Linked DNA regions of Homo sapiens: all the other regions are linked to region 1. The links come from fine-mapping of genetic effects on gene expression. A gene starts in region 1. Each other region holds a variant in brackets. All regions are shown on one strand. Distances are from middle to middle. Region 1 holds the start of ALDH5A1 (aldehyde dehydrogenase 5 family member A1). Region 2 overlaps GPLD1 (glycosylphosphatidylinositol specific phospholipase D1). Region 3 overlaps ALDH5A1 (aldehyde dehydrogenase 5 family member A1). Region 4 overlaps GPLD1 (glycosylphosphatidylinositol specific phospholipase D1). Region 5 overlaps CARMIL1 (capping protein regulator and myosin 1 linker 1).

Region 1 (5,735 bases):
AGTGAAGGTTGCAGTGAGCTGAGATCACACCACTGCACTCCAGCCTGGGCAAGACCCCACCTCAAAAAAAAAAAAGGAATGGGTTCAGTTACCAAACAATACTAATCCCAAATGTCTCAATTTCTCATTATGCATTTTTTTGTATTTGAGATTCAGAATGACATAAACGTATAAATGTAATAAAATAAGAGGAAATTATTTGCTTAGTGTGATAGTTATGAATATGGTCTTTATATGACAATATTGCTTGCAGTTTTATGAAGTTTGTATTACTTTGGTAACAATAAAAACATCAAAGATATGACTTTAAAGAAAGTTAAAACGTAGCTCACAATATTACTATCTGACAAATAATAAGCATATGGAAATATTTTTCTTTCTGCCCCACACCCCCCTTTCCTAATATAGGTGGCTTTGTTATAAACAAGACAGCATGATTCTACCATTTAGAACTCTTCTGGAAATAGAGACCCAAGGTGAAAAGTAAACATACAGTTACATTAAGGAGTGAGTAGGGAGAATACAGGTTTGAAAGCCAGAGGGTCTCAAGCTTTATGTGGGCCAGTCTAGAAAATGGGGGAGAAGAGGCTGGGCACAGTGTCTCATGCCTGTAATCCCAGCACTTTGGGAGGCCGAGGTGGGCAGATCACCTGAGGTCAGGAGTTCAAGACCAGCCTGGCCAACATGGTGAAACCCCATCTCTACTAAACAATACAAAAATTAGCCAGGCATGGTGGCGCGCACCTGTACTCCCAGCTACTCTGGAGGCTGAGGCAGGAGAATCACTTGAACCCAGGAGGCAGACGTTGCAATGAGCTGAGATCGTGCCATTGCACTCCAGCCTGGGCGACAGAGTAAGACCCTGACTCAAAAAAAAAAAAAAAAAAAAAAGTGAAAGAAAAAAAAGAAAAAGAAAATGGGGGAGAGGATGAATAAGGGTGGGAACTGGGGAGTGGAGGTTCCCAGGACAAGGGCAGCCAAAGGAGAAAGGAGGGAAGAGGTCCCTCTCACCTGATGGTCTTGTCCTTGTAGGCCCTGGTAAGGACAGACACCCAGCCAGGCGCTAGGGGGCATCAGGACAGGCTGGAAGTAAGACAGGAGCCAGGAGGAAATTGTTTACACTCTGAATGGGGGCTTGAAGAGGGGCACAAAACTGAGGGAAAAGGGGAGGGCCACATTGTGAACTTTCTAAGCTCCAGGCGCTTTTGCCTTTGTGAAGTACTTCCTGTCACAAAAATAAGTAAACAATAAATAGAAATCACATTTTACATCTGCATTGGTGTAAGATTAACATATTAATATGCCACCTAAAACTTCTTTTCTTCAGATTTTAGAATAAATTAAACATTTGTGAGTGCTCCTAAAAGTTTTATGGGCCCTTGGCATCGTACCTACTGTGCGTAATGGATAAGTCATCTGGGAAAGGGAGTGGGTACCGTTTGAAATAGAACCTTAAAAAGGTAAGTGGGCTAGGGTAATTTTTGAACAAGAGAGGCAGCCACAATTAACTTGGCTTTTCTGGGCCTCAGTTGATTGAGGCCTCAATTGAATGATTTCCCCAGGCCAGTAGAAATGAGCCCTGTAATCCCAGCACTTTGGGAGGCCAAGGAGGGCGGATAACTTGAGGTCAGGCATTCAAGACCAGCCTGGCCAACACGGTGAAAACCTGTCTCTACTAAAAATACAAAAATTAGCTGGGCTTGGTGGCACACACCTGTAGCCCCATCTACTCGGGAGGCTGAGGCAGGAGAATCGCTTGAACCCGGGAGGCGGAAGTTGCAGGGAGCTGAAATCGCACCACTGCACTCCACCCTGGGTGACAGAATGAGTCTGTCGGTCTCACAAGAACAAAACAAACAAAAAACAAAAACCACCACCAAAAACAAAACAAAACAAAAACAAAAACTCCCTCCGCAGGCAGGAGATGTAAACACGCCAGCTCCCCAGCCCCACCTGTGATACCTACTGGCCCACATCCCTATTAGGACTCCCTGGTTCTCCCCAGTTCCTGCAATAAAATACAGAGCAAAATAGTGTGAAATTGATTAAACTCTACTGTTATCACTTCTGCCATATGTGACTGGCTCAAAACTCAATGGATCTGACTCAGCAAAAGACAAAGTCAAAATTTAAAGTTACTGCCTCGGCATTTTGCAAATGTCCTAGAAAAAAATTCAACGTCCTAGAAAAAGGTGAAAGCTAGCAAGATACTCTCAACGCTGTAGGAGTTGAGAAAGGGAGATATGTAACCTAAAATCAATGCATAGGGCTGGGCTTCATTTGCACCCACAAATTCCCAGCATACGCCTGCTATTTTTATTTTTATCCTCATTAGGTTTTAAGCTTCCCTGCTGCTTTCAGAGTCTTAAGCCCAAGTCTAATTTTTTAACGGATGAAGAATGCTGTTTAAAGGTGCTCAAATACCTTGGTTGGATAGTATGCTCAATCCTTATACCTTGGTTGATTCAATTTTGACAAATGCTTCCATTTACTAGTTGGTGACCCAACTTTAATCTTACTAGTGGCTTGACTAGGGTAGCTAGTATGACTTTGAACGCTATATTGAATTTAATGTGGCAACTGTAATGAGCATTTTACGTTATCTCACAACAAAATGGGGTAGATATGGTTCTATTTTATAAGTGACTGGACTAAGGTTAACCTGTCGGTCACACAGCTTGTCGGCAACAGACTTGAGTTTGGATCCTAGTCTGTTTATTTCCAAAGCGCTGTTATTTATCGGGAGCAACCCTAGGAGAATGCCTAGACACACACCCAAAAAAGCAGCCAGGCAGCAGAACGCGGGGTCACACTTCGACCCCTCAGAGAACGATCGCTCCCAATCAATACTACGTGCTCAGGAGCTACAACTGAAGAAGCGTGATCACGGCCTTGGCATTTAGGGCAGGCACCAGCGCATCTATGGACCGCGCACAAATTCCGGGGATGCCGAATTTGGGGGATGCTAAGGGGAGAGAGTGGGTCTCTAGCAGCGATTGGGGGCTCAGGAGCAGTTAGTGACAAATGAGCACCCGAAAAGTGAAAAGGTGACAGCAGTCCGCAGGTGCATCTACTGGCGAGCCTTCTCCATCCCCGAACCCAACCCTCCCCCGGGAGAAGGTCGCGCCAGGAGAGAAGCCGCGCGGCGCTTAGGGCAAGGTGCAGAGGGCGGCGCGGCGGTGCAGCGAGAAAGACGCGGAGAGAGGGCGCTGCTCTGTGGCTCTGCAACCTTCCGCCAGCTCCCACGCTTTCCCCGCGCGTCCCCGGCGCCTCCTCGCTCCTCTTGCTTCCCCGCGACCCCTGCGTTCCCGTGCGCGCGCGCCCGCTTGCCTGTTTCCTGTCGCCGTCGTTGCCCGGGCCATGGCGACCTGCATTTGGCTGCGGAGCTGTGGGGCCCGGCGCCTCGGGTCGACGTTTCCAGGCTGCCGCCTCCGCCCCCGCGCCGGCGGCCTGGTCCCTGCCTCCGGGCCTGCGCCCGGCCCGGCCCAGCTCCGCTGCTACGCTGGGCGCCTGGCGGGCCTCTCTGCGGCGCTGCTGCGCACCGACAGCTTCGTGGGCGGCCGCTGGCTCCCGGCCGCCGCCACCTTCCCCGTGCAAGACCCGGCCAGCGGCGCCGCTCTGGGCATGGTAGCCGACTGCGGGGTGCGAGAGGCCCGCGCCGCCGTGCGCGCTGCCTACGAGGCTTTCTGCCGCTGGAGGGAGGTCTCCGCCAAGGTGAGAGAGCCCGGATGCAGGGGGCCAGAGCTGGCCGGGGACACGGCGGGGAGCAGAGGGGGCTTTACCCCAAAGTGACACCAGCCGCGTCGCCTCCCTCCTGTGCTCAGTTCCCCAGGGTATACAAAGTGGAAAGTCAGAGCAACAAGGGAGACGACCGACAAATAAGTTTGGAGCTTCCACTTTGAGCCGGGCACTAGGGACACGACCCCTGCCCTCAAGCCTCATCAAGTTATGCACTGCCCAGTAGGGGAGGCAGAACGTGAGCGCCTAATACAAGCGAGCTGCTTGTTATGGTCAACAAGCCTAACCGTGGAGGGGCGGGGAGAAAGGGGAGGGGTGTCAGGGAAGTGAGAGCACGTGTGGCCCTTCAGAGTAGCTGAAATATCTCCGCAGCTGCAGGGAGCCCACGCAGGAGGCTGCTTCAGCGGCCCTTGAGAAGGCTGGTAGTGAGGGCCCCTGGCCAGAATCATGGGATCGGAAACGGAGAGAACTGTAGAAAGATTTGGGTTTTGTGCAGGGGAAGAGAGAAATCCAGGAGCGTTCTCCAGGTTTTCACCCTAAATGGATAAATGCTGCTATTGGCCATTGCATAGAGAACACTGGAGAATTGGGAGTAAGGGGTGGAGGGCCATTAAATGGGAAGAATAGAGTAAGAAGAAAACTAAGAAAGTAGTTTCTTCCTTCTAATATTATATTATTAAACCTGGAGTCAACGCAGTGAAATTTTTTACCGTGTCCTTCAAAGCTCTCCCTCTGAAGGAATGCATCCAGCGATCCCTACGAGTACAAGAGAGTCTTAGCACTCATTCATCCATCAGCTGTTTACTGAGCACCTGCTGTATGCCCTGCACTGTTGGAGGTGCTTGGGATACCTCAGTTAAACGAAAGAAGGATTCTGCCCTTATGGAGCTCACATGGGGTGGAAGGGGAGCAGAAGAGAGATCAGAACTCTAAACAACAAACATAATATCTAAGCAAATAAGTATGTGAGAGATGCTGAGTGCAATATGGAAAAAAGGTAGAAGCAGGAGAGGATCCGGGCCAGAGGGAAGGGGCAAGATGCAGCATCAACAGTGTGACCAGGCATATTCCTCTGCTAGGGCTGCCATAGCAAAGTACCACAGACTGGGTGGCCTGAACAACAGACATTTCTCATTTTACCGCTCTGGAGGGTAGAAATCCCAGATCGAGGTGTTGTCAGAGTTGGTTTCTTCTAAGGCCTCTCATTGGCTTGCAGAGAGCTCAGCTTTTGTCTTTGTATCTCATCAGACCTCAATTTTAGACTCATGGAGTCTGAGATGTCTGTTCACGCCCAAGTGAGGATGTAAAGTAAGCAGTTGGTTATATGAATGAATCTTCCCTGTGTGTCTCCACATGGTCTTTCCTCTGTGTGTATATGTGTCCTAATCTCTTCTTCTTTTAAAAACAGGAGTCAGATTGGATTGGGGCCCACCAGAATGACCTCATCATAACTTAATTCCCTTTTTAAAGACCCTATTTCCAAATGCACTCACATTCTGAGATACTGGGGGGTTAGGACTTCGACATGTCAATTTTGCCAGGAGCACCATTCAGCCCGTAACATCAGGGTAGGTCTCATTGAGGACATGAGATACAAAGACCAAAGGAGGTAAGTGTGTCCGGAGTTGGTTCCTGCCGGTAGGTTTGTGGCCTCGCTGACTTCAAAAATGGAGCCGCGGACCTTTGCAGTGAGTGTTACAGCTCTTAAAGATGGCATGGACCCAAAGAATGAGTGGTAGCAACATTTATTGTGAAGAGCAAAAGAAGAAAGCTTCCACAGCGCGGAAGGGGACCCGAGTGGGTTGTCGCTGCTGGGTGGGTGGGGCGTGGTGGCCAGCTTTTTATTCCCTTATTTATCCCTTCCAGTGTTCCGTTTCTGTCCCATCAGAATGCCTTTTTTTCAATCCTCCCTGCGATTGGCTACTTTTAGGATCCTGCTGATTGGTGCGTTTTACAGAGCGCTGATTGGTGCATTTTACAGAGCGTTGATTGGTGTA
Region 2 (6,470 bases), 53 kb before region 1:
TGAATTAATGAATTTTGAACAAACTCAAAGCTAGTTGTTGGAATTTCGCTGTAAACTTTATTATTTGGAACACAGCTTTGATTTCAGAAATATAAATGGCACCTGTGGGTTGATGGGGCTAGTGGCCCTCTGAGAAGTTTGCCGTATGCTGGCAAAGTGTCAGTGCGTGGATACAATCTCACGTCAGCGTCCACTGAGTTTTGTGTGTAAAACTGAGCTAATCTGACCTGTTTTTTCGGACAAACTTGTGCCTTGTTTATGGGAAACTGTCCACTAGAAGCCACTGAGGGCTCAAAGCAGAGTCGGCAACAACAGTCAGATATAACAGCTAGAAAACAGTAGGAAATAAGAAAGAGTATTTTAAAAGCTCAGCAATCTGGAGCTTTCTGATACAGGGCAAACAACATGACCTAACACAATGTCTCCTAAGAGAACAATGTGCCAGCACAACAGTTAATATTCAGAGTGAAAGCCCAAAATATCAAGAAAAGTTGAAATAAGAGAAAATCTTCATTCCTTTTTCTTTTTTTATTATTGAGATGGAGTCTCACTCTGTCACCCAGGCTGGAGTACAGCGGCGTGATCTCGGCTCACTGCAACCTCCGCTTCCTGGGTTCAAGCGATTCTCCTGCCTCAGCCTCCCGAGTAGCTGGGACTACAGGCACGCGCCACCACGCCTAATTTTTTGTATTTTTAGTAGAGACAGGGTTTCACCGTGTTAGCCAGGATGGTCTTGATCTCCTGACCTCGTGATCTGCCTGCCTCAGTCTCCCAAAAGTGCTGGGATTACAGGTGCAAGCCACCAAGCCCAGCCACATTCCCTTTCTTTTCGTGCCTCCTAAAGGAACCATGAGCTCCCTGGAGCGCCCAGGAATCCAGTAACACTTCCAGCTCTCTGTCTACTCCCTGCTTCAGTCCTTCCATGGCAAGAGGATACCTGAGGCTTCTCCCTCTGGCTCTGCCGCCCACAGGATGAACACTGGCCCCAGTGCATGTGGGAGAATCTCAGAGAAGTCACCCCAAGGTCTAGCTTTCGGAGCAAGAATTAGAAAGCCTGAATAGGGCTGCCCATTGAGACTGTGTTCTCTAATCCAACTATGTCAGCTCTTCAAAAGTACATATTTTGATATCCCTCTGAATGATTCATGAATCTATTTCAGAAATGATTTGAAATGCACAAGGATGAGGAAGAATTGTAATTAATCAATACTCCCAAATCTCTAACACGCATCACAGTCTGTTAAAGAAGAGAAGCATATAATTTAAAATAATTTCATCAAAGTGTTTTTTTAATTCTTCAGAATTAAAACAGAAGAATCTAGACACTTGGAAATTTCAGCCATTCAAAACACCTCACCTTCTCAATCATGCAAATTAAACAATGGATTATCATACACATTTAGACAAGGAGAAAAAACTCAAGGTAATGTTGTAGGCATTTCTATATTATTTCAGTACTGAAAATAATTCTGAAGAACTTTGGCTTTTAAAAGGGCTACATGCAGAGGCCTTTATGAATTCCCAAATTCTAGAATGCTACTATAACACAGAATTCCTTCTGTAATGCTTATACCTTCTAGTTAACATAGAATTCCTTCTGTAATGCTTAAACCCTCTGATTAAGGACCATTATCTTTTAGACCTCCATATTGCCTTAATTTCTGCCACGAGCACTAGTCCCTAGGGTTGTGTTTGGGATGCAGGGGTGGTGGGTATTTTTTAAATACACACACAAGTGTTTTACTTCTCATGTGGAACTTTTCTTCCAGTGGAGGGAGCAGAAAACAAAAGAGCTATTGTGAAACACAGGTGCATCTCACCAACTCTACTCTCTTGAAAACCACAGGAAAGAGGATATCATCTTGTAATGTGGTTCATATTTGTGTCTCAGAAAAACTATAAACTTGCCAGGCATGATGGCTCATGCCTATAATCCCAGCATTTGGGAGGCTGAGGCAGGAGGATCACTTCAGCTCATGAGTTCAAGACCAGCCTGGGAAATGCAGTGAGACCCCATCACTACAAAAAGTAGGGTGTGGTGGCATGTGCCTGTAGTCTGACCTACTCAAGAGGCTTGAGGCGGCAGGATCGCTTGACCTCAGGTGTTCAAGGTAACAGTGAGCTGTGATCACACCATTGAACTCCAGCCTGGGCAACAGAGCAAGACCCTATGGCTTAAAAAGAAAAAGAAAAATTATCAACTGTAAGTTACTTAATGTCACCAGCTTTCAGGATTACTGCAAAAGTCAAAACTATGAAGATGTCAAGAAGATCTTTTATATTTGATCATTATCAAAAGTGTAAAAAATACTCAAAAAAAAAAAAAAAAGAAGCATAATCCAGGTGTTGTGGCACATGCCTGTGGTCCCGGCTACTTGTGAACCTGAGATGGGAGGATCACTTGAGCCCAGAAGTTCATGGCCAGCCTCGGCAACATAGCAAGACTCCAACTATTAAAAAAAAAAAAAAAAGCATAAAGAAGAAAATGTATATACTATATATATTTCTTTCTGGAAAGTGAGATAGGTAGGTAGGTAGGCAGATATCTATAAACACACATTTTAAACAAAATGGAGATTTTGTGGATTATAAAATTTTAAATCTGATTCTTTTCACATTTAGGCTATTTCTAGCTTTTTACTACTATAAACAATACAGCCATCCCTCAGTATCCACGAAGGATTGGTTCCAGGGCCTCTCACAGATACCAAAATCCACGGATGTTCAAGCCCCTGATATAAAATGGTATAGTGACTGGGCGCAGTGGCTCACGCCTGTAATCCCAGCACTGTGGGAGGCCGAGGCGGGCGGATCACCTGACATCGGGAGTTTGAGACCAGCCTGGCCAACATGGTGAAACTCCATCTCTACTAAAAATAAAAAAAAAAATAGCTGGGCATGGTGGTGC[G/A]TGCCTGTAGTTCCAGCTACTCAGGAGAATGAAACAGGAGAACTGCATGAACCTGGGAGGCAGAGGCTGCAGTGAGCTTGAGATCACACCACTACATTCCAGCCTGGGCAAGAGAGCGAGACTCTATCTCAAAAAAAAAAAAAAAAGTATATCAAAAATCTCAAATTTAGATTAATCTGTGCCTTATAGCTGTGATTCCCAAACTGCACACTGAAGCGCTTCAGTGAACTGGCAAAGATGCTGTAGATATTTTGACATTTCAAAGATAACAGTGACATCTGACACCACACGAACTACTGGGTGGAGGCCGGTCACAGTTACGACACGAGAGTCCTGCATTCGTTTCAGTGATGCCACATCTTTGCAAAGCTGCATATTCAGGGATGGTTGTGATAAAAAGCAGGCACTAATGAAAAAATTGCTGTGGATTAGGAAATGAGGAAAGTTGTGTCTAACCTGATTCCAAGACTTGAAAAGCTGTACAGTGCCGAGAGAAGCTAAGTGGTTAGGACATAAATGCAGGGCATGTGCCCCTGTGGTCACACAGGCACTGCATTTCGAAAGGACCTATGCCTGTCTTCATGTTGTCCTGTCTCTGACTTGAAATTGTCAACAATGTTTTAACAAGGGGCCCTGCATTTTTATTTGGAACTGGGCCCCGCAAACTGTGTGGGTGAAATACAAGTAAAATACAAGTAATAATGGGAAAATCTGAACAATTTGGGTGAAATATATCAATAACAATAACCTGATGGTGACATTAATTCATATTTATATATAATATATAGTTATATATACATTCATACATTATATATAGACACATACATGTATATATAATATATACATATTATATACATTTATATTATATATTAGTATACTTATACACACTTTATAAATTAGCATATTATATACATACATAAAAGTTATAATTAAACTTATTTTCTATTATTATTTATCTTTTAAAAAATAGGGTCTCACTCTGTTGCCCAGGCTGGAGTGCAGTGGGTGTGATCATAGCTCACTGCAGCCTTGAACTCCTGGGCTCAAGTGATCTTCCCACCTCAGCCTCCTCAGTAGATGGAACTACATGTGCCCATCACTATGCCTACCTTTTTTTCTTTTTCTGTAGAGATGGGGTCTCCCTATATTGTCCAGGCTGGCCTCAAATTCTTGGGCTCAAGCAATCTTCCCACCTTAGTCTGCTGAGTAGCTAGGACCAGAGGTGCATGCCACCACATCTGGCTAATTTTTTTTTTTTTTTTTTTTTTTTTTTTTTTTTTTTTTTTGAGATGGAATTTCACTCTGTCACCCAGGCTGGAGTGCAGTGGCACAATCTCAGCTCACTGCAAGCTCTGGCTCCGGGATTCACGCCATTCTCCTGCCTCAGCCTCCTAAGTAGCTGGGACTACAGGTGCCCACCACCACGCCCAGCTAATTTTTTGTGTTTTTAGTAGAGACAGGGTTTCACTGTGTTAGCCAGGATGGTCTCGATCACCTGACCTCATGATCCACCCACCTCAGCCTCCCAAAGTGCTAAGATTACAGGCATGAGCCACTGCGCCTGGCCCAATTTTTAAAATTTTTTGTAGAGACAGGGTCTCACTGTGTTGCCCAGGCTGGTCTTGAACTCTTGGCCTCCAGTGATCCTCCTGCCTTAGCCTCCCAAAGTGCTGCGATTACAGGCATGACCCACCATGCCTGACCTTCTATTTTATATTGGACTTTATCATAGGAAAAAAAATTATCAAGAGAGTAAGGGCACCAAAACCAAGAAAGTTTGAGAAACTCTAATTCACAACACTTGGGTAGAAAGAGTGGTGAAGAAAATAAAGTTAATAATGTGTGTTGCAAGAGCTTAGAAATCATTCCCTAGACTCTGAAAAGCAAAAATGATTCTGTGGCTGACTGCTATGGTTACTACTTGAGACCGTCATCACAGCAATTACTACTGTTACTGCTTGAGAGCGTCATTACAAGACTGAACGAAGGAGGACGAACGTAGAAATGAAAACTTGAAGCAAAAGAAACTGTTTTAAAGGAAGGGGAACCGAGGAAGAAGAGAGCTCCCGGCTTCTAGTGAGCAAAGGCAGCTAGCTCCCGAGCTTCCACAGCCCTTCCCATTTATTGGTTAGCAAAAGCAGGGAGGAGGAGGTAACGATTGGTCAGCTGCTTAATTGATCACAGGTTCATATTATTATTAACAGGCTTCAGATGTGCCTAATCACAAGAAACACGGCACTTGGGGCGTGACTGCCCTCAGCTTTCCTTCTGGGTGGCAAATGCAGTTTGTCAGTTTGCCAACATTCTGCATTTATGAGAAACAGTTTTGCTGCTTACTCAAATAGCCTCCAGTGGTATACTGAGTTATCACGACCCTCATTCTTTTGGCTTCCAACATGATTCCAAAGCTAAGTCAGCACTTTTTTTTTGTTATAATGCTGTGTCTTCGATTTAATGAAAAATTTAGCCATTCCTTTGCCTAATCCACTTGTTTTTTTGTTTTTTTGTTTTTGAGACTGAGTCTCACTCTGTCACCCAGGCTGGAGTGCAGTGGTGTCATCTTGGCTCAGTGCAACCTCTGCCTCCAGGGTTCAAGCAATTGTTGTGGTTCAGGCTCAGGAGTAGCTGGGATTACAGGAGCGTGCCACTATGCCTGGCTAATTTGTGTATTTTTAGTAGGTTTAGACAGGTTTCACCATGTTGGCCAGGCTGGTCTCTAACTCCTGACCTCAACTGATCCACCCACCTCTGCCTCCCAAAGTGCCAGGATTACAGGCGTGAGCCACTGCACCCCGCCTGTCTGACCCACTTCTGCTTATTATTCAAATCTTTCCCATATTGCAAGAAACAACAATCTTTCTGAAAAATAGTTTGATGATATATAACAAGAGCTTTTAGAAAGATTAGAACCTCTACTCCAGTAATTCCATCTCCAGGAATCTATCCAAAAAACTAATCAGAAAGGCAGTCAAAGACTAGGTACATGAGTGTTCAATAATTACTTATTCACAATAGTGTGAAACTGGAAACGAGCCTACAATTCCAGCAACAGGATGATGTTAGTAAATGCTGGCATTAAAAAAATGCAATGCAGATATCAAAAGTCATGTTTTAGAAGAATATTTACTAACATGAGAATGTGCTTAAGATATAAGTAAAAAAATTAGGCATGACAATATCATATATAGTATAAGCTTCAGTTTTTAAATATCTGGGTAAGGGGTGTTTTTTTTTTCCTTCTATATATTTCCTTGTATTTTCAGAAGTTTCCACAATAAGCATAATTCACCTTTATAATCTGGGAGGAAATGGTTCTTATTTATTTTTTTTTTTAAAGACTATCTTTCCCATAAAGTAAACAAAATAATGGTTTATATAAAGTATGTTTTCAGGGGTGGGTGCAGTGGATCATGCCTGTAATCCCAGCACTTTGGGAGACCAAGGTGGGAGGATTACTTGAGCCCAGGAGTTAGAGACCAGTCTGGCCAACATGTTGAGACCCTCTCGCTACAAAAAATAAAAAATTAGATAATGTGGTGGCTGACTGCCTGTAGTCGCAGCT
Region 3 (6,470 bases), 31 kb after region 1:
GACTCTGTCTCTACAATTTTTTTTTTTTTTTTTTTTTTTTTGTGTGACAGAGTCTCACTCTGTTGCCCAGGCTGAAGTGTAGTGGCATGATGTCAGCTCACTGCAACCTCCACCTCCCGGATTCAAGAGATTCTCCTGCCTCAGCCTCCTGAGTAGCTGGGACTACAGCTAATTTTTCTATTTTTAGTAGAGATGGGTTTCACTATGTTGGCCAGGCTAGTCTCGAACTCCTGACCTTAGGTGATCCACCCACCTCAGCCTCCCAAAGTGCTGGGGTTACAGGCATGAGCCACTGCGCCCAGCCAAAAAAAATTAAAAATTAGCTGGGCATGGTGGCAAGTGCCTATAGTCCCACCTACTTGGGAGGCTGAGGTGGAAGAATCACTTGAGCCCTGGAGGTCAAGGCTGCAGTGAACTCATCACTACTGCACTCCAGCCTGGGCGACAGAGCGAGACCCTGTGTCAGCAAAACAAAAGACTATAAGTTGGTGTTGGACCACATTCCTCTTAGCCTCTGCTGTTGCTGCAGCATCACAGTCTCCTAGGAGAATTGCACTCTTTCCCCACCCCCCAGGGAAACAAAATAAAAGCCATTTGAAAAAAACATGGATTGGGTGGCTTTTTTTTCTTTTCTTTCGTGTGTGTGTGTGTGTGTGTGTGTGTACAGGTGCTTATTGCCAACTAATCACTGATGCATAGCAGCTGTGTAGCATAGCAGCTGTGGAGGGAACTGGAGGGGAACATGCACTGACTCAGTGCTTTTATCTTTGGGGCCAAGCCCACGTGAGGAGGAAAATGGCAGTTTGAGCACATGACAACCACCGAGGGAAGTGTTTTCACAGAGAGGCGGTAGCAGCCACACGTTCACTGGTCAGGTCTGCAGCTTCTGACAGACTGTGTGGGTTTGTTTTTGTCTCCTGTCCAGACTTGTGTTTGCTCAAACCAATTCTTGGTGCAAAGGGGCATCCATGATGCCTTTGTAAAAGCATTCGCCGAGGCCATGAAGAAGAACCTGCGCGTAGGTAATGGATTTGAGGAAGGAACTACTCAGGGCCCATTAATTAATGAAAAAGCGGTAGAAAAGGTAAGTATATTGTATTATTTGTGAAAGTAAATTTCATGGTTTCAATATGAAAAGCTTAATCAGCAAAAAACACTTTGGCTGGAGGGGTGGGGATAGAGAGGGGTGGGTTGACAGAATATTACAGCTAGACAGAAGGAATAAGCTCTGGTGTTCTACAGCACTGTAGAATGACTGTAATTAGCAACAATGTATTGTATATTTTCAAATAGCTATTATTAGAAGAGTAGATTTTGAACGTTCCCAGTATAAAGAAATGATCAATGTTTGAGGCGATAGATGTGCTAACTATCCTGATTAGAGTATAGAGTATGAGAGATCTACATCTATACATGGAATCGAATGGAATTTTCAATGATGTTTTCATACAAAAACCACAAAGGTTAAAATAAGTAAAAAATTAATAATAGCTAAAAAAAATGATGTTAAAAGGCAAAAAAAAAAAATGAAAACAAAAAAGTCATTTTGGTAAAGTGCCCAGCAAGCCTATTTTGTAAACAATGGAGAAACCTGAGAAAAGTGAATTCTGCCTACCAGTTATATGAATCGGGTTGTTGTCTGGTCATGAGCTGCTATAGCCCTGCCATTGCACCAAGTCCCCATGCGGTCTGTCACTGTAGCTCTTTACTGTCCTCCCTAAATTTTGTTATAGTGATGATAATTCTATCCCTCACTGCCTCAGCAATTAGGATCTTGAGACAAAGTTCATTCATCTTTTGGAACACCTATGGAATGGAAGACTGGCTTGGTTTTGAGATGGTTTGCGTTTCGGCTGTAATGCTGATGTTGTCCTGTTCTTTCTTCTCTTGATGACAAAATCCCTGTCTAAAACAGTCCTTCATGAAAGTATCCCAGCCGGGGGTGCAGAATCACAGATGCCGCGTTCAGGATTTAGAGATATTGAGGGGAAACTGCTTTTAGGAAAGATTTGTTTGTTTAAAAAAATGTTATAATCCATACTACTAGCTATATGAGACTTCTCTCCTTATTCTACTGTTTTAAAAAAATCCATTTTGGAGTCACAAGAAAGTTTCTTGTAATATCAAACATCCAGTTTTTTGTGTTTTTTTTTTTTTTTTTTGAGACGGCGTCTCGCTCTGTTGCCCAGGCTAGAGTATAGTGGTGAGTCTTGACTCACTGCAACCTCCGCCCCACTGAGTTCAATTGATTCTCCTGCCTCAGCCTCCCGAGTAGCTGGGGTTACAGGCACCCACCACCACGCCTGGCTACTTTTTGTATTTTTAGTAGTGCTGGGGTTTCACATGTTGGCCAGACTGCTCTCGAACTCCTGACCTCAGGTGATCCACCTGCCTCGGCCTCCCAAAGTGCTGGGATTACAGGCGTGAGCCACCATGCCTACCCAGAAATGGTTTTAACGGAATATTTTAAATCAGGAAGACAGTAGAAGCTGAAGATTGTGTGTGGGAAAGAAGGGAGGAGAGGTGGTCAGAGGGAGACACACAGTGGAGGCACAGCCAGCCCCTGGATGCAACTGAAGAACCAGAAGCAAGTGACAGCCAAGTCAGTACTCATCATGGGAAGCACAGCCCCACCGCTGTTCCTCAACCTCCTCAGAGCCTGAGAACCAAGCCCTGACTCCATGGCTGCCTCCACCCCGTGGGCAGTCAACTCAGCTGAACCCACATCCATTGCCTTGGGAAACCCAGGGAAGCCTCGAGGTTTGACAGAGCTCTGATAAATTTCTAGTTACTGTCTTGGGATTACTCTAGATAAAGAAAATACATTAAAATTTACATTGGAACCACCTGCATTTTAGAGGTGACTTTGGACCTTGGGGACAAGGCAGGGGTATTCACTTGTCTAGTGAAGGCAATTTGGGTCTAGGCCAGCTGTGGTTCAAGTCCTAGAGTGGTGGTCCTTAACTCACACCGTGCCTTTATCGACTACAGTTGCCTGGGACCCATCCAAGAAGACTAGGTGTTAATTTATGTGTAGTCAGCCTAGGCATTGGCATTTTCTAAGTGCCCCAGTATGATGCTAGTTTGCAGCCAGTCTGGGAAACCACTCTGTCTTGAAGATTTTTTTCCCCAAAGGGAAGACGCAGACATTGTCCTCCAGATGGTGCTGTACGCCAGGACTTCAAACAAGCAGACAGCGAGATTTCTTTTTTGCTGGAGAGAAATTTGGTGGAAACCACCTTGTTTAAAAACACTTCATTGTGTTGGCTTTAGTGTACATACTGTCATAGAGTGGGTTCTAGGAAAAAAACACTGCATCTCACATTAATATGACAAGAAAAGGGCAGAGCAGATTATATTTGGGGAGGAAGGGGGTATTTTTGTTAAGTAGAATTATTTTTATAATATAAAATTCATAGAAAGTAAGCCATCCTAGCCGATGGGGATTAGTTGCAGGTGATGCACTATGAGAGCATTGCAGGAGGGGCATGGATTTCAAAAGAGTCAGTCTCAAAGACAGAATGCACTCACACCTATATTTACCTTCCTGAAACCCTATAGAAAATTCAGCTGAGGGCCGGGCACAGTGGCTCACGCCTATAATCCCAGCATTTGGGAAGCTGAGGCGGGTGGGTCACTTGAGGTCAGGAGTTTGAGACCAGCCTGACCAACACAGTGAAACCCTATCTCTAAAAAAAAAAAAAAAGAAAAGAAAAATTAGCCAGGTGTGGTGGCAAGCACCTGTAGTCCCAGCTACTCAGGAGGCGGGGGCAAGAGAATCTCTTGAACCCACGAGGCGGAGGTTGCAGTGAGCAGAGATCGCACCAGTGCACCCCAGCCCAGCCTGAGCA[ACAAAACAGAAGT/A]CAAAACAGAAGTCAAAATAGATGGGTCTACCCAGGGGAACCCTGCAGAGGAAATTGGTGCCATTTTAAACGACAGAGCCTTTCTAGAATTGGTGGCTACAGAAAGTAGGAATAGGAGGAGGGGAGGAGATGAAGCTGGTTGATTCTACTTCTGCACAATTTTCTGGGTCATTCCCACCATCCCTTCTCACCACGACCACCACCAAGACACATGAGACAGCAGAGGCATTTGTTCTGGGCAGGACAGCTTTTCTGAAGAAATATAGTAGGTATCTAGGCAGACTACAGCTTCAAGAGCGAGGCTAGGTACCTCAGGGTAGGGCTCTCTCGACTTTGCCTTTTGGGGAAGGGAGCTGCCCTTATGTGAAGCCTGCAAGTTAGAATAAACCCAAGCTTAAAACAGCAAAGACCACTCATGCCACACATCCCCAAATTGATCAACCCAGTCCTTGTGTGTGTGTGTGTCCCCCAAACACACTGCTGGAGCTGAGAAGGAGCTGACCAGGTTAGTTTCGACAACTCAGTCCTTCATTCAGAAAGATGAACAACCAAGGATCATGATGGGAAAACCACCAGCACATAAGAGGAAAGGTCAGGAAGAACAAACAGAATAGTCCCTGAAGGAAGCAGATAAATTAGGGAACTGGAAGGAAATTTTCTAAAAATCTCATAGTGTCCTGCAAGAGTTTTGGGAAGATAGTACATCTGTAAACTGTTAATAAGAAGTATGTTCTAGGCTTAAAGTATAATAATAATAAAAAAAGAAGTATGTTCTAGGAAATGAAGCAATGAAAACAAAGAGTCTGTAGAAATTAGACATATGACTGTCACAAGATTCGGTACCTGAAGTAGATGATAAAATTTCGGAGATCTTATGGAGTTTAAAGCAAACTATAGAGAGGCAAAAAATATAATAGAAATGCAAAAAAAAATCAGAACTAATCTGAACTCCTGTTAATACCCGTCCAGTAGTAGGAGTTCTGGAGTGAAATAATTGGGAAAATGGAGGAAGTGACATTACCAAGTAAATAATAGATGGAAACTTCTCAGAGTTAGGGGAAAATAATTATTCTGCAGATTGAAAGATTTCACTGCTTACCAAGTAGGATGAATGAAAAGGGAATATATATATATCTTCTCTATATATATATATTCTATATATATATATCTTCTATATATATATTCTATATATATATCTACTATATATATATTCTATATATATCTACTATATATTCTATATATATATCTAATATATATATATGTGTGTGTGTATATATATATATATATATATATATATATATATAGTATTGCTAAAATTTTAGAATATCAGAGCATAGAAGATCCTAGGAGATTTCAGAGAGGAAAAAGCTATCAAGAAGAAAAAGGGTGAGAACCATTTTTGGCTCAAACTTCCTCAGCAACACCGGAAGTGGAGAAGTGCACTCAAAGTTCTGAAAGTTATTTTGTATCAGAATTCTGTACTCAAGCAAATTATCAATCAGGTGGAGTACAAAACACCAGAAACTTGGTGTATGAAAATTCAGAAACTAGACCACATCCAGTGCATCTTTTTTAAAACAACTACTTGGCCAGGCCTCGTGGCTCACTCCTGTAATCCCAGCACTTTGGGAGGCCAAGGCGGGTGAATCACGAGGTCAGGAGTTCGAGACCAGCCTGGCCAAGATGATGAAACCCTGTCTCTTCTAAAAATACAAAAATTAGCCGGGCGCGGTGGTGGGTGCCTATAATCCTAGCTACTCGGGAGGCTGAGGCAGGAGAATCGCTTGAACCTGGGAGGCAGAGGTTGCAGTGAGCCAAGGTCATGCCACTGCACTCCAGCCTGGGTGACAGAGCGAGATTCCATCTCAAAAACAAATAAATAAATAACAACTACTTGAGATTATGTGTGTCAGAAAGCAACAAAAACTCAGTTCAGGAAATAGGACAACATGGGATCCAAGAAGCTAGAAATAACCGCAGAATGCAATGAAAGCAAATCCAAGCAAACGGCTGAGCCGCAGGCCTAGAAAGAAGCGAATATATATTAGACCATTCAACAAATAGGAAGATCAAACAGCTAGAAGATATCAAAGACCAAGGAGGAAGGTGGCACTCTTGCTTCTGAATCTCTGCAAATGTGGTTCCTTCTACAAAAGGAAACCAGCATGCTTTATTGTTAACCTACTTTTTTTGAAAAAGAAAAAAAAATGGAACTAGTTATAGTTTTCTGCAGTTTAAACATTCTAAAAGATTGTATCATGTGGAAAGCTTTTTTTCTTCCTCATTACACAGGTGGAGAAACAGGTGAATGATGCCGTTTCTAAAGGTGCCACCGTTGTGACAGGTGGAAAACGACACCAACTTGGAAAAAATTTCTTTGAGCCTACCCTGCTGTGCAATGTCACCCAGGACATGCTGTGCACTCATGAAGAGACTTTCGGGCCTCTGGCACCAGTTATCAAGTAAGATCCTCCAGCCAGCGGGGAGATGGGAGGAAGAATAGAAGAGAACATAGGAAACCCTGAAAGAGATTCCTGGGCTGCTTTGAGGTCTGGCCAGGAGGCAGACAGTTGTGTTGAGTCCATTGAAGAGCAGAGTGCAATTTAT
Region 4 (6,470 bases), 31 kb before region 1:
GGTATCTCAAGAAGCAGCATTCCTCTTTCTCAACTTAGAGCAGAAAATTCTTACCGGGGTCCAGGAATTTACACTAAAGAACACTCCTCTTTCAGTATAGTTTATATTCCTGTCAACACTTTCAGTTAGGGATGTAGTCAAATTTCTGTGAAAATCATTTTTCTGCATTTTTGAGCTGTTGAAGAGAAAGAGGAATAAACTGGTTACGACTGAGAAAACAACCCCCTGTAAAACTGAGTTGAAGAATATAGTCAAGTTAATCACAGGTTAAAAGACCACAAAATTTTAACGTCAGAAGGCTGAAGGAGCAACACAGAAAGTTTTAGAAAACCTTCATTTCACAAAATCTTTTAGTAAACACATTTCTAAGGCTTAAAAGCCTATCCTTATAAAACATATTTCCTATAATATCAGAGCTCTATGGTAGGAGTAAAAGGCTTCAATTCTTTCCAGATTATGAAAAAATTTAGCAACAGGTATCAGCTGGTGGGGAAACTGCTTTGCAAGCATACTGATTTTTTTTTTTTTTTTTTGAGACGGAGTCTTGCTCTGTCACCTAGGCTGCAGTGCAGTGGCACGATCTCGGCTCATTGCAACCTTCGCCTCCTGGGTTCAAGCAATTCTCCTGTCTCAGCCTCCTGAGTAGCCTGGAACTACAGGCATGCACCACCACACCCAGCTGATTTTTTTGTATTTTTAGTAGAGATGGAGTTTCACTATGTTGGCCAGGCTGGGCTCGAACTCCTGAGCTCAGGTGATCCACCTGCCTCGGTCTCCCAAAGTGCTGGAATTACAGGTGTGAGCCATCACGCCCAGCCAGCATACTGATTTATCTTCAAAGACATGCTAAAATTAATTATACAATAAAAATACATTTTCACATTCAAAGATGTCAACCAGCCAAAAAGCAGATGACTCAGGGAGCCAGAGAGGCTTCAGAAATGACTGAAGTAGGGAGTGGACAACAGCCGTAAGTGACGGGGCCCTGGGCATGACACCAACTAGTGTCAGGGTTCTGGCAACCCCAAGAAAGATTGCAAGCCTAATCAAAAGGTGCTCAATGTGATTAAACAACAACAAAGTATGTTGAAGGAATGGTTTGCTAGGAAAAAAAGAAAAAGAAAAAAAAAAGTTACCCAATTCAAATACAACAATGACGACTTCACTGAACACTTTCTGTGTAATTTTCATTCTTCCAAAGTGCTAAGATCATTCCTCTCAGTACCTTTATCATTGCAATACTCTACTTTTGAGTATATCTCACTCTTGATCATCCTTAAATATCCCGGTTAAGCCATCACTTCTTCAAGGAGAGCTCTTTTGTGCCCAGGGCCAGGACGCTCTGTTGCAAATCCCCAGAACACCCTGCATTTTTAATTCCTGACACTTAAATATCTGTTAAGCCATCACTTCTTCAAGGAGAACCCTCCTGTGCCCAGGCCAGGACGCTTGCAAATCCCCAGAGCACCTTGCATTTTTTCTTCCTAACACTTAACAATGTCCACAATTACTTGTTTAGTGCCCAGCTACCTGCCAGGCCATATACCTGAGAGCAGGAACTGTTTCTGTCTTGTTCACAATGATATCTCTAGTGCCTGAACCAGTTCCTGGCACGTACTGATTAATAAATGATATTTTATTATTTGTGTTATTTTGTTCTATTTTATTAATAAATATACACATATTTGTAATATTAATAACTTATTAAATGAATGCATAAATGACTGTCGGTTGGTACCTGACTCCAGCAGAAAATATCATTTCTTAAAATACAAACCAGGCTTCTGGCCCTTAACATTGAGGGCTTCTCCCAACACTGTCTCATCAATAAATAAATTTTCATGTAAAATCTGGGTGAAGTTTATGAGTAAGACAATAATATTGATAGTTACAATAATACTAACTACATTTCTTCTTTCTTTTTTTGAGACAGGATCTCACTCTGTTGCCTAGACTGGAGTGTACTGGCCTGATCTCAGCTCACTGCAGCCTCGAACTCCTAGGCTCAAGCAATCCTCCCGCCTCAGCCTCCCAAGTAGCTGGGACTACAGGCACACACCACCATACCTGGCTAATTTTGTTCATTTTTTGTAGATATAGGGGTCTCACTATGTTGCTGAGGCTGGTCCTGAACTCCTGGACTTAAGGGATCCTCCTGCCTCAGCCTCCCAGAGTGCTAGGATTACACGTATGAGCCACTGTGCCCAGCCACTAACTACCGTTTAATGAGCAACTCAACATGTGCTAATTGCTTTACATCCACCACTGCATGTCATCCACACCATAATTCTGGGAGTGTTGATGTGCTTTTTCCATTTTGCAAAAGGAGGAAGCTATAGCTCCAAAAATCAAGCAGCTTGTTTAAAAATCACACAGCTGCAAGTGACAAATCTGGAATTTGAACCTACAGCTGTCTCTCAACAGATCCCGTGTTCTCAACCTCTATAGGGCATCTCCTCCAGGTGAGATGTACTTTTTCTATGAACAATTTTGGAATCCACTTACCCCTGGGTGTGGTTTTGCTGGCCGCCACATGCAATGAACAGAGGGTTCTCAGGCAGGTTGCAGTCACTGAGGAAACAGTCAAATGAGTTAGCCATTTATCTACTTCTTCACAAGCATGAATTTTACCGAGAATCGGTAGTGCGCTTCAATCATCTCCCAAAGGCTTAAAGTGTTTATTACCTAGCCATACAGGACTAATTAAGAGCCCATGTTCTCCCAGAGAGGGTGGGTAGGCTGACGGTTGTCACTATCATGGTAATCCAGGAAGGCTCATGCTGCCAGTCACCCCAGACTCAGCCTTCCTCTTCCCTCCCCGCTCCACCTGCTGAGCTGTTCCACGCTAACACGAAACGTCTCAGAATTTGAGAGTGTTATCAACACTGGTTACCAATTATGTCACCTTCTGCCCAATTATACACATTTATGCCTAAATGTGTCTGAATTTCTCAATTTCATTTCTTTAAAAAAAATTCCATAATTTCAATAATTAAATAGCTAATGAAGGATCCCCTTTTACAAGTGAAAAAGCCTCTGAGAACATAAGAGATAAACTCTTCCCAATAGAGGCTTTCCCCCAACACTGAACAGAAGCACTGAGGAAGCAGGTATTAATATAAGAAGAGTATTCTGGAATGAAGACTATCTTAAGATTTGTATGGAGGTCACTGAGGGAGGCTGGGGTAATACAAAAGTAATGTGGAGTGTAGGGGTGAAGAAAATTAGTTGCTGAAAAAGGAATTCCAAAAAGGAGGTGGGAAAAAGCTGAAGGCAGACTCTTCCTACCAAAACATTTCTCTGGCCAGGTTTGAGCTGAGGAAAAGGTTCTCTCTTTGGACCTTTTCTTGTCCACCACAGGACACAAAAGGCAGCCTTACAGCATTAGCACTATACTTTCAAATAGAGTTTGAGGTGAGTAGAGTTCTTGGCAATGTAACTACCACTACTTCATTGCTTTTTTAAGGAAAATATACCAAATAACATAAGTGAGCTTTGGAAGATAACCTGTGTTAGTAAGCTGGGAAATGCCTGTTACTATGAACATATTTATGTTTTCCTTTCTGTTATGAA[T/C]TTTTTTGTGTTGTCTCTTTTTGGAGACTTCTCTGAATTTCCCATACATTTTCATAAATTCTGATGAATCTTTCTTTGTATATGTATGCAAACAAGCAATCAACTCATGGAATTTTACACCTTGGTAAATTGGGACAGGGATCAAGAGACAAGAAATATGTTCTTTCTCAATTATCTTTTCCTAACGAAAGAATAAGGTCCAGCTATCTTTCCTTAGCTATTTGGAGAACCAAACCAAAATTGAACACCAAAAAATGTTTTCCAGTTTGGATTATATAAAACAAGTAAGTGCAGGTCAATCACTCAAACATGCCCTTATGTTATGAGTCCTTCCAATACAAACTTTGCTTCCTTCTAATAATAATAGTAACCAATACTTAGTAAGTGCTTACTCTATTCTAAACCCTTTACATGACTGATCTAATTTACTCCTCACAAAAATCCTATGGTAAAAATAGTATTGCTGTCCCAATTTTATAGGTGAGGAAATAAGATTTTGGAAGGTTTAGCAACTTGTTCCAGATAACTCAGTAGTGAGTGGCAGATCCCTTAAATTCTGTACAACCACGGCAGTATGCACCTAAAAACCCAGGTCCACGGGAGAGCTTGGGGATTTTAGTTGAGGTTTATTTCACTATTAAAAGTGGCATTCATATGAGATTGCTATCCCTGCCAAATTGTTACTCACCGATTGTTAAAAACAAGTTTATTATGTACCAAGCTAAGGTCGAATTTGTCATCAAAGGGAATTTTGTTTCAAATCAACACAATATATAATTATGGTTAACACTGTTTGGGTACTAGCAAATGTTTATAAGGGTAAAGGAATATCACCCAGTATAATATTCTGGATCTACATTCTGTAGGCCATTCCAACTTATGAACAGCTAACTCTGCTATGATCCTGACCTGGAACAGTCTCCCAGGCACAGGTCCCGCCCAGAGAACCCTCTTTCCCACTGCTGGTGGTACAGCCTAAGCTTCCCGCTCTGCCCTTTCCCCGATTCGGGGGCTGCCCTGTGCTTCCTAGCCACACCCACATCTCAACCCGGTTCAGGTCAGTAGTGGGGAGAGGCTGCATGTCCAACAGCATGATCAGAAATGGGTTCTCTGGGCCAGGCATGGTGGCTCACGCCTGTAATCTCAGCACTTTGGGAGACAGAGGTGGGTGGATCACTTGAGGTCAGGAGATCGAGACCAGCCTGGCCAACCAACATGGCAAAACTCTGTCTCTACAAAAAATACAAAAATTAGCCAGGTGTAGTGGTGAGTACCTGTAGTCATAACTACTCGGGAAGCTGAGGCAGGAGAATTGCTTGAACCCAGGAGGTGGAGGTTGCAGTGAGCCGAGATCGCACCACTGCACTCTAGCCTGGGCAACAGAGCAAGACTCTGTCTCAAAAAAAAAAAAAAAAAGAAAAGAAAAGAAAAGAAAAGAAAAAAAAAGAAATGGGTTTTCCGGCCACGCATGGTGGCTCATGCCTGTAATCCCAGCACTTTGGGAGTCTGAGGCGGGTGGATCACTTGGATCTCAGGAGGTGGAGACCAGCCTGGGCAACATGGTAAAACCCCATCTCTACCAAAAATACAAACAATTAGCCTGGTGCAGTGGTGTGAGCCTGTGGTCCCAGGTACTCGAGACTGAGGCACAAGAATCACTTGAGCCCAGGAGGTGGAGGTTGTAGCGAGCTGAGATAATGCCACTGCCCTCCAGCCTGGGTGACAGAACAAGACCCCATCTCAAAAACAAAAAACAAAAACACATGTGCTCTTAAAAAAAAAAGAAAAAGAAAGAAATGGGTTATCAGAAGGGCCTTGGCTCCCTCTGATCTAGGGGTAGTGTAAGACTCTGTGAGAGTCTAATGATCTACTACAGCTAGAAGTGGGGACAATCACAGTCTACCTTATCTATATTTCGGCTGAGTTTCTGATTAATTCTTGTCCTGAGCATGCTTAGGAGAAGAAAAGGAACTGGAGGTTCAGCAGCTGTCCCATCTGGGCTAGATGTCAAATTTCAACAGAATGTTTTACAAATGCATTTATTTCTCATTTTACGTTGGAGTGTGTGTCGGGGCATGTAGCTATAGCTCTATTTGCTTCTGTTTTTTTAGTATTAGGTGAGGTATCCTTTGACACCCTGAAACCCTGAGAGTGTAGTCAGGGTGGAGAGGTGTGTCACCACAGCAAGAACACAGCCACTCTGGGACCTGTGGAGACCTGGCACTCCAGCCCCCAGCATGGGTTTTCCCAAAAGAAACAGATGGAGGCTGGGTGCAGTGGCTCATGCCTGTAATCCCAGCACTTTGGGAGACCAAGGCAGGTGGATCACTTGAGGCCAGGAGTTTCAGGCCAGCCTGGCCAATATGGCGAAACCTCATCTCTACTAAAAATACAAAAAAATTAGCCAGGGATGGTGGTGCACACCTGTAGTCCCAGCTGATTGGGAGGCTGAGGCACGAGACTCCCTTGAACCCAGGAGGCAGAGGTTGCAGTGAAGCCGAGATCGTGCCACTGTACTCCAGCCTGAGCAACAGAGCAAGACTCTGTCTCAAAATAAAAAGAAAGAAACAAATGGAGCACCACCTGTGGAGGCTGATTCCTGCCTGGCTGAGCCATTTCTCACAGACCCCAAATATTGCAATAACTGTCTCTCTATTTCTAAAACACGAGCAGCATCAACCAAGCCAACTGGATGGGAACCAGTCAAGTTTATAAGATCACTGAGTTTCCATTCTTTCCCTCTTTGAATAGGTTAGAAAAGCACTTCATGAGATTGTTTTGTTTTGTTTTTATGTGATCAGTTGAAAAACCTGAGAGTTATGTTGGGGGATGGGGTAAAAAGGCAGAGAGTGATTGGTAATAGAAATGCAATATGAATTCACCTGGTCCCATTCTCC
Region 5 (5,000 bases), 960 kb after region 1:
CTTGGCACTCTGTAGATCTTTCATAAAAATTTTTTGAGTGAATTAATGAATTCATAAACTATTCATTAAATGATTACTCTGTGATAACTAATGACAGTATCAGTTAACATATATTGACATTACCACACACCAGGGATTCTTCTTTTTTTTTTTTTTTTTGGAGAGTCTCCCTCTGTCACCTAGGTTGGAGTGCAGTGGTGCAATCTAACTGCAGCCTCTACCTCCCATGCTCAAGCAATCCTCAGCCTCCTGAGTGGCTGGGACTATAGGCACATACTACCACACCTGGCTAATTTTTGTATAGATGGTGTTTCGTCACATTGCCCAGGCTGGCCTTGAATTCCTGGGCTCAAGTAATCGCCTGCCTTGGCCTCCCAAAGTGCTGGAATTACAGGCTCAGCCCTGGGGGGGTTATTCTAATAACTTGATAGGTACTATTATCATTTTTTCTCACAATAACCCTATGGGATAACATCTCAGAAACTGACAAATTCAGAAATGTGTCAGTTCCTGAAAAAGGAAACTTTGGGATGGTTGGCTGTACTTTTAACCACTACTCTGTCTTGTCTCTGCATGTGTGGGCATGAACTTTGTTAGGTTCTGAGGAGGAGGATGGGGGGTTGGGAGGAGCTGCATATGTTCTCTGCCCCAGAAGAATCATGGCCCAGGGGAAGAGGTAGCAAAAGGAACAACTATTCCAGTATGACTTGATCAGTTTCTTGATGGACATGTGTGCAAGGCACTATAGAAGGACAGAAGAGATTTTTACTTTAATTAATTGAAAATTAGTAATTTATATTTGGTATATACGTAATCTAATAATTCATTAAGTGGAGCAACTTTTCAAACTATTCTAACAAAATCTAACATTATAAAACTATAACATGGAGACTGCATTGCTAAATACCTTTCATCTACAAAGGAAAGTTATAGGGATTTATTATGTTTTCTAGATTTCTAGCTCTCTAGTGCTCAAAAAAATTGAAAATTGAAAAATTGAAGAAAAACTGAAATTGAAGTGACCCTCATCTTTGTTGAAGAAAAAGGAATGTGACAAAATTTATTTCTATGTGCAGTCAAAAAGTGTGGTTTGTGAAATGTGTTGTTGTTGTTGATCTTACAGGAGAATCATGAAAAAAGTCTCCATGGAGCCATCTGAGCGCCTGGCTAGTCTCCAGGCGCTGTGGGACAGCCAGACCGTGGCTGAGCAGGGCCCCTGTGGTGAGCATGCATTTTAAAACTGAAATGTGAATAGCTGGATGGATATCCCCCTGCCAGGAAGTTAAGTCTATTCCTAGTGTGCTACTGTAAAGGTGCAATTAGTTTCAAGGTGTAATTAGCAGCGCACAGACTTTAGATTGGTGGACAAAAGTCCTATATTTAAGCTGTATTGCATCCTGCTATGTACTTACTATAGAACAGGGAGGAGAATCTTTGCTGTTTTCCCCCCTAAAAAGGAAAAGGATAATCAGCATTGTCAACATCGGCCATATTTAAGCTTTAAAATTTTAATTTAAACATCATTTTGCCAAAGACCTGTCAGTGTTTTTGTTGTATGTTTCAGGTGGATTTTCTCAGATGTATGCCTGTGTTTGTGACTGGCTTGGATTTTCATACAGGGAAGAAGTACAATGGGTAAGAATGTCTGTGTACATGTGCATGAGCACACACACTCCTGGAGAATATTCTAATGTTTGGCTGGCTTGTTTTTCTTTTTTTCCCTTCATTTATTTTTCACTTAAAATCTTCACTTCTCAGATTACATAAAAACCTGCCATTGTCATTGTCTAATTCTCACTGTCTCTCTTGCTTTCCTGGTCATCTGCATGGACTGATGACATGACTGAATTATATTTCAAATAGGATGTGGATACAATTTATCTTACCCAAGACACCAGGGAATTGAATTTACAAGATTTTAGTCATCTTGACCACAGGTAAGCTGCTTCCTTCCTTCTTTCCTCCTTTCCTCCCTCCCTTCCTCCCTCCCTTCCTCCCTCCCCTCCCTCCCTTCCTCCCTCCCTTCCTCCCTCCCCTCCCCTCCCCTTCCCTCCCCTTCCCTCCCCTCCCCTTCCCTCCCCTCCCTTCCCTTCCCTTCTCTTTTCTCTTTTTTCTTTTCTTTTCTTTTTTCTTTTCCTTCTCCTCTCCTCTCCTCTCCTCTCCTCTCCTCTCCTCTCCTCTCCTCTCCTCTCTTCTCTTCTCCTCTCCCCCTCCCCTCTCCCCTCTCCCCTCTCCCCTCTCCCCTCTCTTCTCTTTCCTGCAGTTCTCTGTTGGCACTTAGGGCTGTACATTATCTCCAAAGAATTGTTTTATAAGAGGAATCAGTACAATCTAAGAATCTCTAGATTTTTGCCTTTCAAGTTATAGTTTCAAATATGTTTATCACTGTGGATGACTTGTGGAGGTCCACAGTGCATGTGTGTATCCAAAATCCAGAGTTCGTAGTTAGAAAATGTGCTGAATTTTACCATAAAAACAGTATAATTCTTAGGTTCTTATGTCAGCCTACAAAAGTCTGTCTATTCTACCCTGTCTATAAAATGTAGTATTATTTTACCTAATTGCCATTTAGAACATTTTTTCAAGGATGAACTTTAATACTGAAATTCTGAGATATGACTTTTAGTTCAGAGTTTATGAATTGGGCATTGGTAGGGTGTATATGTGTATGTTGGTGAAAATCAGTTTGCCAGTATCTGCCATGTGATAGTGATAATAAAGTCATGAAACCTGTTACAAGTTATT[T/G]GAGAAACTTTTAGGTTTAAGATCTTGACTTGAATATATTTAGGGCTATGGCTTGTGAGATTCAGACCTCAGAGAAAAGCTTCATTTTTCCCCATGTCTCTTAGCACAGCAGACCTGGCAAATTTATTTTGCTCTCTAACAGTCGAGCCCGGCCCTATTCCAGAGTGTCTGGTAATTTATCTTGGCCTATCCCAATCTCTTCAATTCTGGATGTGCTGCTACTTATTAGTAGCAGGGGTAGCAGGGGTCAGCCCTACTTAATAAACTCCAGCCCTACTTAATAAATTAGTAGCAGGTAGGCAGGGGTCAGCCCTACTTAATAAACTCCAACCCAATAAATCTTTTCTCTCTGATTGGAATTGGGAGAGAAATCTGGGATTCCAGCTATATCATTTGTGCCATTTGGACAACTGAAGTGTCACAGAGGATTGTTGTTGCCCATATGTCATCTCATCACTAGCATCTTGCCCCCCCCTCCCCCCCCCAGAATACTGTTTTGAATTATTTTTCCACCTACCTGGCAGGAAATCCAGAATTGCAGTGTGGTCCCTGAAGAGCTCTAGCCAACTGAATCGGCCAGGGAAAAAGTATACTAGCTGGATATACCTCCTCTTTGCACAGCCTGGGACTACGGAAGATGGTGAAGCAGGCTCAGCTGTGTCTGTAGTTGTGGCTGATGGGCCTAAAGCCTCCAGTTCTCAGGCAATTTTTTTTTTTTCCTGCTTAGAGCAGTTCTCCTTCTTCCTATAAGTGAGGCAACTTTATACTTTCAAATTTAGACAAGATGTTTCCTGTGTAGCTCATAAAAAAGTGAACTGAGAAAGAAAAAGGGAAAATATTTTACTTTGTAAGTATTTTCCAATAAAACAAGAAAATTGCACGTGGAATAAGATAGAAGTTTACAGTCCTCCAGTGTTTGGTCTCAGCGTTTTTGGTCCCTTTACAATCTTAAAAATGATCGATCTTTGGTTTTTGTGGGTCAAAACATTGGTATTTACAATATTATAAATTAAAACTAAAATTTGAAATATTTATTAATTAAAAAGTGACACTAATAAAGCAAACCATTACGTACTAACATAGGTACTGTTTTTATGAAAAAGTAAATATATTTTCCAAAACAAAAATAAATCAGCAAGAAGAGTGGCATTGGCTTATCTTTTTGCAGATCTTTTTAATGTTTGACTTAATAGAAGACAAGTGGATGCTCATATCTACTTCTGCATTCACAAAATTGTGATATGTTGTTTTGACTGAAGTATGAAAAGAAAATCCAGCCTTAAAGATGTGTAGTTAGGAAGTATTTTCAATAGCCTTTTCACATAATTGTGGCTATTCTTCCTTGGTACTTCACCAAAACTCAACAAGTGGTGGTTTCTTAAAGATAAGTTGCAATGTAGAATCAGAACCATATCAATGAACTTTTTTGTATTTTGTTACATTAAAGTCTGTTTGGTCTATCTTCTCCTTTGACTGGGTCTTATCCATACATAATTTTGTAGCATTGTACATTGGTAACTTAGAAAATATTGGTTCATTGAGTTATACATAGCTTTCAAGTATCTTCCTCTTGTATAATAGCAAAAGAAAAAAGAAAGACATTTCATAACTATCATCACTGATATTATAAAAGTTTTTTGAAGTACTTCAGAGGTGTTGAGCTCATAGTAGCAGACAAAAGTTTTCCAAAATTTAAATTTTTGCTTGAAAGATACAATTTTACTATTGGAAAAAAAAAAACAAACATATTATCAGGTGAAGTGATATCTTGAAGTGACCAGATTACTTCTTAGATTTTAGAGGGAATGTCTACCAAATCCCAAATCTAAATAACTATACGTTGTCATTTTTTTGTGATAGTCCACTGAAAAAAAGGAGCTGGTTCTGCTTAAAAATGCAACTATCACACAAACACTTTACATTGAGACAGTGATCCCTTTGATATATAGAGGAACATACTTCCCATTTTGAACTTACTTCTCATTCTGTTACACAGGATATTAAAATGTTTGTACTCAAGAGCTAAAATTTAATAAAATGAGTAATGTTTACTGCTTCACTGAGGACATTCTAAAATGAAATTGATGTTTGTTTAAAAAACTAGGAGCTTGTGCCAGTGAAGACTCCCGCCTTGGCTTGTGCTCAGGTGCTAGCAGTTTTCCCCACCATTGCTTTTGCACCTTCCATGCAAAGGGCAACACAGTGAAAGGATAAGTTTGTTTTAGAGTTGTTATGAAAACGATTTTGAACCTGTG

What was found. PIP is the estimated chance that this variant, and not a neighbour inherited with it, causes the effect.
Region 2: its variant is fine-mapped to the expression of ALDH5A1 in skeletal muscle (GTEx, PIP 0.99).
Region 3: its variant is fine-mapped to the expression of ALDH5A1 in whole blood (TOPMed, PIP above 0.99).
Region 4: its variant is fine-mapped to the expression of ALDH5A1 in monocytes (TOPMed, PIP above 0.99).
Region 5: its variant is fine-mapped to the expression of ALDH5A1 in vagina (GTEx, PIP 0.93).

The regions. Positions count from the first base shown.
Region 1 is chr6:24,491,637-24,497,371 of GRCh38, forward strand. ALDH5A1 (aldehyde dehydrogenase 5 family member A1) reads left to right here and starts at 3,333. Exons shown (of 10, transcript NM_001080.3): 1 at 3,333-3,714. The coding sequence starts at 3,361. It also overlaps a transcript of GPLD1 not described here. RefSeq lists a silencer at 3,339-3,728.
Region 2 is chr6:24,438,269-24,444,738 of GRCh38, forward strand. All of the region lies in intron 20 of GPLD1 (glycosylphosphatidylinositol specific phospholipase D1), which reads right to left. Among named protein-coding and RNA genes, the nearest start is that of MRS2, 39 kb to the left of the region's middle. The variant G/A (reference allele first, on the strand shown) is at 2,909.
Region 3 is chr6:24,521,842-24,528,311 of GRCh38, forward strand. It overlaps ALDH5A1 (aldehyde dehydrogenase 5 family member A1), which reads left to right. Exons shown (of 10, transcript NM_001080.3): 7 at 926-1,084; 8 at 6,156-6,325. Among named protein-coding and RNA genes, the nearest start is that of ALDH5A1, 30 kb to the left of the region's middle. RefSeq lists a silencer at 613-662. The variant ACAAAACAGAAGT/A (reference allele first, on the strand shown) is at 3,852.
Region 4 is chr6:24,460,225-24,466,694 of GRCh38, forward strand. GPLD1 (glycosylphosphatidylinositol specific phospholipase D1) reads right to left here. Exons shown (of 25, transcript NM_001503.4): 10 at 6,456-6,470; 11 at 2,506-2,571; 12 at 55-175. Among named protein-coding and RNA genes, the nearest start is that of GPLD1, 26 kb to the right of the region's middle. RefSeq lists a silencer at 2,648-2,848. The variant T/C (reference allele first, on the strand shown) is at 3,574.
Region 5 is chr6:25,448,775-25,453,774 of GRCh38, forward strand. It overlaps CARMIL1 (capping protein regulator and myosin 1 linker 1), which reads left to right. Exons shown (of 37, transcript NM_017640.6): 6 at 1,124-1,221; 7 at 1,565-1,635; 8 at 1,864-1,937. It also overlaps a transcript of LOC124901281 not described here. Among named protein-coding and RNA genes, the nearest start is that of CARMIL1, 170 kb to the left of the region's middle. The variant T/G (reference allele first, on the strand shown) is at 2,746.